Linked DNA regions of Homo sapiens. The protein of the gene in region 2 interacts with the protein of the main gene of each other region in a pairwise test. Each region holds a gene or a part of one and is shown on either strand. Other genes may lie near its edges.

Region 1 (3,533 bases), on a different chromosome or scaffold from region 2:
AGAATTAGCCAGACCAGGTAATTGATTGCAGGAAGCTGAAGATAACTGGCCTATGCCAGGGAGTTCAATAACCATTTTCCTCAATGCAAAATTCCAACCTCATGTTAGAAATATTACCTAATATAGTAGATATCTACTTTATCCAAGTGAGTAATTAACTAGAGATAACTACATGAAGCCAGTACCTGGAATAAACAAATTCTTCTCAGTACTAGTTGAACAAACAACTAGCAATTACTAGGAAAACTGGTTGAACATAGAAAGTTTAGTAACCATTCGAGTCAATTCTGTATTCTTACTTTTTTAGGATTGTTGACTAGGTACTATGGATTTGGTAACTAGAGTTACCTGAGTAAGAGTTAAATACAGAATCCTCCATAAAACTGGAATAACTGGTTGAAGACAGAAGTATCACATTGCATTCTCCTCAGTATTTCTCATTTCTTGTTGGAATAATAAGTTGGTTCTGTCAATGGGTAGTGAGTACCTAGGTTATTACAAAGCAAGAAATAAGAAGAGATGACTAGAATAAATATTTGATACCAGAATGGTGAAAAAAACATTCTTTTCAAATAGAAACTCTAATTTCCTGTGTAATTAATGAGTTACAATTAGTTAGTACTGGAGATATCTATATGAGATGTGGACTTCATTTTTGGGGGGTGGTACATACTTAACAGATGAACTGCTGGGTCACATGGTAGATCTATTTTGATTTTCCAAGGAACCATTACACTGTTTTTTATAACGGCTGTACCAATTACACGTCTGTCAACAGCGTGTAACAGTGAGGTGATAGTTCATTGTGGTTTTCATTTGCATTCTCTGATTATTAACGATGTTGAGCACATTTTCATATACCTGTTGGCCAGTTGTGTGTTTTCCTTCTAGAAATGCCTATTCAAGTCCTTTGCCTATTTGTTAACCAGACTATTTATTTATTTGCTATTGAGCTGTGTGAGTTCTTTATATATTTTGGATATTAACTCATTATTAGATACATGGTTCGCAAATAGCTTCTCCCAAACCATAGCCTGCCTTTTCATTTTGTTGACTGTTGGCTGTGCAGAAGCTTTTAGTTTCCAGCCTGCTCACTTGCCCTATATATTTCAGCTTCCTAGACCCCCACATTGAGTCAATGTGTGAGCCAATTACTTAGAATAAACTGTATCATATATATAATTCATAAATACTACATGATAGTAAATATATATTTATGATATATAATATTACACACACACACACACACACACAATATCCTGTTGGTTTAGTTTCTCCTTCTCTGAGGAACCCAGCCTGATACCGAAACCCAGCCTGATACCGATACCCAGCTGAGCGAGTGTGTTTGCTGATCTTGACCTCTGGAAGCCAGTGCTTTAAACCATGAGAATGAAAAATTGTGAGGCACTATGTGGATGCTGGGAGAAGTATGTGAGATGGAAAAGTTGTTTCATGGCATCCAAGAAGTGAATGATCCTCAAGGTGTAGCAGAGGAATTTGTAGGAGAGAGGGATGATTGACGTCTTCGTATAGCCCTCCATCCATCCCAGTTAGCATGGAGGGATTTTAGATAGGTCATACAGAAACTGGGTAATGATGGCAGGTGTGGAGGAACAGAATGTACCACTGAATGGGAGGTCCGGGGGAAACATGTGGCGGAAATATCCTCCCGTGCCACGTGATCTGCCAAAATTGAACATGGGGAGTTTAGGAGGGGTGACATGTCAGTTTGGGAACTATCTTTAGGGGTGCTAACCCAAATCTCCCTTTCTCCAATTAGAGCACCCTGCCTTCCTCATTAGATGTCACCCCCCCCCCCCGCCCCCGACTTCATCCGCCATGTCCTGATGGTGCTTTGTGACGTATAAGGCCTTCCTTCCCGCCCAGGGCTACCATTGGCTGGGTAGTGGAGTGTTGACCAATCACAGCTCAGGGGCGTGATTGTCTCGTCCTGGGATCGCGAGAGGGGTATATACAGGGAGGCCAGGCAGCCTGGAGTTAGTCGACCGTTGCGAGACGTTGAGCTGCGGAAGATGAGTCCAAAGCCGAGAGCCTCGGGACCTCCGGCCAAGGCCACGGAGGCAGGAAAGAGGAAGTCCTCCTCTCAGCCGAGCCCCAGTGACCCGAAGAAGAAGGTGAGTGACCCTCCCAAGCTCCTCCTCGTCTTCCCCTCGCCTCCTTCCTCACAAGAAGCCTCTCCTGTCGTCACTTGGCAGAACCCCCCAACCCGGCCCCCACCGCTTCTGAGGACACGTCCCTGTTCCCAGCCTCCTCCATCCTCGTCCCTAAACCAGAGCCCTTCTGTGATCTCCCTGTTGTCCTTCCAGACTACCAAGGTGGCCAAGAAGGGAAAAGCAGTTCGTAGAGGGAGACGCGGGAAGAAAGGGGCTGCGACAAAGATGGCGGCCGTGACGGCACCTGAGGCGGAGAGCGCGCCAGCGGCACCCGGCCCCAGCGACCAGCCCAGCCAGGAGCTCCCTCAGCACGAGCTGCCGCCGGAGGAGCCAGTGAGCGAGGGGACCCAGCACGACCCCCTGAGTCAGGAGAGCGAGGTGGAAGAACCACTGAGTCAGGAGAGCGAGGTGGAAGAACCACTGACTGTGTGGATGGCCAGCTTTTCCCCTGTCTCCGAGAGCACCGACTAAGTTCAGGCCCAGCCGCCAGACCTCAGAGATCTCACCAGCGGGGTGCTTGCCATTCTGAAGATAATAAAATGAATGTGTTGCAAATTGATCTGAGTGACTCCGTGTTCTCTGATGGTGGGGAGGGAGGGAGGGAGGGGGGAAGAGGTGGTGTGTGGTGAGGGAGGGAGGGAGGAAGAGGTGGTGTGTGGGGAGGGAGGGAGGGAGGGAGGAAGAGGTGGTGTGTGGGGAGGGAGGGAGGGAGGAAGAGGTGGTGTGTGGGGAGGGAGGGAGGGAGGAAGAGGTGGTGTGTGGGGAGGGAGGGAGGGAGGGAGGAAGAGGTGGTGTGTGGGGAGGGAGGGAGGGAGGAAGAGGTGGTGTGTGGGGAGGGAGGGAGGAAGAGGTGGTGTGTGGGGAGGGAGGGAGGGAGGAAGAGGTGGTGTGTGGGGAGGGAGGGAGGAAGAGGTGGTGTGTGGGGAGGGAGGGAGGGAGGAAGAGGTGGTGTGTGGGGAGGGAGGGAGGGAGGAAGAGGTGGTGTGTGGGGAGGGAGGGAGGGAGGAAGAGGTGGTGTGTGGGGAGGGAGGGAGGAAGAGGTGGTGTGTGGGGAGGGAGGGAGGGAGGAAGAGGTGGTGTGTGGGGAGGGAGGGAGGGAGGAAGAGGTGGTGTGTGGGGAGGGAGGGAGGGAGGAAGAGGTGGTGTGTGGGGAGGGAGGGAGGGAGGAAGAGGTGGTGTGTGGGGAGGGAGGGAGGGAGGAAGAGGTGGTGTGTGGGGAGGGAGGGAGGGAGGAAGAGGTGGTGTGTGGGGAGGGAGGGAGGGAGGAAGAGGTGGTGTGTGGGGAGGGAGGGAGGGGGGAAGAGGAGGTGTGTGGGGAGGGAGGGAGGGAGGAAGAGGAGGTGTGTGGGGAGGGAGGGA
Region 2 (3,819 bases):
TCGCTGCACTCTCTCTCAGTTTGTTTGTTACCATCTTTTATCGTGATTACCTGTGAATAATCGTGTTCCACGTAGTGGATCCTTCCCTCCTAGCCAAGTTAAGGGCAACCTTGTGTGTTGACTTCTGTGTTGCCCTCACATGTATCAGATCCTGCAAGACTATGTGTCATAAATTCTTTGCGTAAAGGAACGTGATCTAGTAGAGTCTTGAAATTTAGTGAGGGGGAGAATCCAGCATACAATCTTTTTAGATCTTGTCCAAGGAGTATAGTTACTAAACTCCAAAGGATTTCAGGCTGCCAATAAGGTAGTCACGTGGCATGGATCCATTTTAGTAAGATTCCTTTGTGTTTGTTTTTCTGAAAAGGATTCAGCGTCTTGGAAAGAGATCAGGAAAAATGCACAGGTTTCCTTATAGCATCCTGTCTCGCTAGAGAGCTCGTTGCTCCAAAGAGCTTCCTTTTCCTGGTATCTATACCTGGAGAAGTCATTGACTAATGATAACTGGAAATACCAGTAGAAGTCAGTGAATGCTTCCAATCTCAATCTCCTGTATACTTTTCACCAATTTTTTTTTTTATCAAAGAACTTGGATTCCACTATGATAGAAGAAGCCTGTCTTCCGAAAAGGACTTCTAGAGCCACAAAGTGCTTGGTTAACACCTTGGTGATGGTGAAAATCCTGTGCCCCTCCTGGACTACCATGTGCCCCTCCCCGGGTTAGGGTTCAGACTCTTGCTTTAGGATTTAGGAAACCAGAGAATATTCAGTGGCTTGGCTAGTATCCAGTAGCAGGTGGGCGTAGTTAGGAGGCGAGACCAGGTGTGGGTGTAATAGCCCAGCCTGTCCTGTCCCACACTAACACTGCACCACACTCAACGAGCTTCTACGGCTCGGCCTGCTCATCTGCTCCCAGCACCCACTGTCCCCAGATTATTTAGGTTGACTCAGCTTCTTTGTCATTGTCACTTGGAGTCTTCAGGCCTCGTTTCTGATCCTCTGCCCCACCTGCCCCAAATGTGCAAGGAAACCTCTTTCTTCCTGTCTGCCAAAGCCTGTCACTCATCATTCCCTGCTGTGGAGTAGAGCCCCAGGACTCCCTCCTCCTAGGCAGCAGCTGCAGGGGTGACCTGCTCAGCTGCTTCTGCTGCTTTGGGTGAAGAGAGTGTGACTCAGTAAACCCCAGAGACCATTCCTGAACGTCCCGTCATCTCCCCTAAGAAACTTTCCACACTCTGCCCTTCTTCAACCTTCCCTGCCGACTCTCAGCTCACCTCTCAGCTCTCCTCTCAGCACAGACTTCTGCAGTTACTGCAGTTTTCTGTGTTCCATCCTTTTAGTTGTTGTTTGTTTGTTTGTTTGTTTGTTTTGAGATGGAGTCTCACCCTGTTGCCCAGGCTGGAGTGCAGTGGCACAACCTTGGCTCACTGCAACCTCCGCCTCCCAGGTTCAAGTGATTCTCCTGCCTCAGCCTCCGAGTAGCTGGAACTACAGGCGCGCGCTGCCACGCCCAGCTAACTTTTGTGTTTTTAGTAGAGACAGGCTTTCACCATGTTGGCCAGGCTGGTCTCAAATTCCAGATCTCGGGTGATCCACCCACGTCAGCCTCCCAAAGTGCTGGGATTACAGGTGTGAGCCACTGTGCCATCCTTTAAAGGATGTGTTCCATCCTTTAAAACATGCCACAGTGAGCTAGGCCGTGAGCTTACTTCCTCTGAGGAGGGACCTGCTTCTGGCCTTCTGCCCTCTTCCTTTCAGCACTGTTTCTTCCTCCTCAGTCCCCCGACGTCCTGATTTTTTGTGTATTTGTTTCGTTTTGTTTTGCCTTTGGGAGACATGTTTCTGCACACGGCAGGCGCAGCCCACCGCCAGAACCCCTCACACCTGCCACCTTCCTCCCTCATTGCCACCTGCAGCTTAGGATGCTGGTTGTCAAAATGAAAATACAAAGTTATGCAAAACTCAGGTTGTATTTTCAGCCATGTACTTTTCATAGGCATAAGTTCTGGAACTCTGAAACTGAGGTCATGACAAAGCAGATTTGCCCTCAGAAGGTTCCAGAATCCTTGTGACGCCTTCCTGTTGCTAATGGTAGCACTGTATCTATCCTAGCATTATATCTACAGAGCAGAGGCAGGACCTTTGGCAGGAGACACATCCCTTCTCCTGTGATGTGTCAGTTAGTGTAGAGAAGCAAGCTGGCATGGACTTGAGAGCCGGGGTGGGTATCTGCCCCATGTGGCCTGGCTATGGCTGCTCTGTTCAGGGAGCCTGGGGTCAGGGGTGGCGGCCACCAACCTGTGCCAGAGAAGGCTAGTCTCTGCATGGACTTCAGTGCAGGCATACCCGGCCTGATGGGGAGGGCTGTGGGTGGAAACCACACAGAAAAGATGCCTCCTCTTGCTTGAATTGTGGTGTTAACTAGCCGGGAACGTATGTGTCTGGTTGCTGAAATTAATACCGCATTTGCCTGTGGGCTTATCTTTCAGGATTCCTTTGGGACCTCTTCCAGACACACCCTGTTCCGTAGCCTCTCGAGAAAGTAGTAAATTTTGCTGACTCTGCGTTATTGAAATCTCGCTTGGTCGTTCATTCTCATAAAATCTGGAATATGATTTATTGTTTATATATTGTAATTTTCACAGGGGTTTGAAGTAGAAATAGTTTTATCTCAAATTAGAATATTTCTCCTCTCAAGCATATGCCAACAACACATAGCAATATTGTAAATTTGGAAATCTGTGTTATTTCCGTGTTCACTCATGTTCAATTAGACAGAATTAATATATTCTGTAATGTTTTTAGTATCATTTTTAAAAACTAAAGATATTTACTTCAAAATAGTGAACAGTAAATTCAAAATAAACTTCCTTATTTAGTAACATAACACATATATTAATAAGCTAAATATCTAACTGGAAAGCACAAAACGGCTAGGTTATTGTGCAGTTACCAGTTCTACAGAGAAACCTGGCTTATCCTAAGTGCAATCATTATGTTGATCCATATATATATATACATATCCTTATATATACATATATTGATCATTATAATTGATCCTAAGTGCAATCATTATATTGAATGTGCTGTGTGTATTTGTAGGAGCTGTATTTTTCTTAACAGATGCTGTCTGTTAGCCTTTTCTTTATCTTACAGTTTAAATTTCAAGCATTTATTAGAGTAACTGCATGAATGTTTACACACACATACCCTGGCCTAAGATTTTTTTTTTTTTTGAGACAGGGTCTGCCACTATCACCCAGGCTGAAGTGCAGTGGCACAATCTCGGCTCGCTGCAACCTCTGCCTCCGGGGCTCAAGCAGTCCTTCCACCTCAGCCTCCAAGTAGCTGGGACCACAGGCACACACCACCATGCTGGGCTAACTTTTGTACTTTTTGTAGAGACGGGGTTTCTCCATATTGCCCAGGCTGGTCGCAAACTCCTGAGCTCAAATGACCCTCCCATCTCAGCCTCCCGAAGGGCTGGGATTACACGTGTGAGCCACCATGCCCAACAGTGGCCTAAGATTTTATCTTTTGGGTTTGAGAAAAAAAAATTCATTTCTCTTCATCTTTATGAAGATACTGGCTGATGCACAGTTTAAGAAGATAGTGTGTTTGAAATAGCTCCTAACAGATATCAGCATCCTCTGATATTATTATTGATAGAAAATATTTTCTTTTTCTTTTTTTTTTTTTTTTTTTTTGAGATGGAGTTTCACTCTTGTTGCCTAGGCTGGAATGCAATGGTGCCATCTTGGCTCACCACAACTTCTACCTCCTGGGTGAGCCGGGTTCTCCTGGCTCAGCCTTGTGAGT

What was found.
Region 1: the proteins of BEND7 (region 2) and VCX2 interact in a two-hybrid assay, tested with the Homo sapiens proteins (one large-scale study listed by BioGRID).

What each region holds. Positions count from the first base shown.
Region 1 is NC_000023.11:8,169,144-8,172,676, reverse strand, and holds VCX2 (variable charge X-linked protein 2), read left to right. Parts: upstream 1-1,409; 5' UTR 1,410-1,570; intron 1,571-1,887; 5' UTR 1,888-2,033; coding exon 2,034-2,135; intron 2,136-2,327; coding exon 2,328-2,645; 3' UTR 2,646-2,733; downstream 2,734-3,533.
Region 2 is NC_000010.11:13,501,263-13,505,081, reverse strand, and holds part of BEND7 (BEN domain-containing protein 7), read left to right. Parts: intron 1-1,488; exon of another isoform or gene 1,489-2,221; intron 2,222-3,819.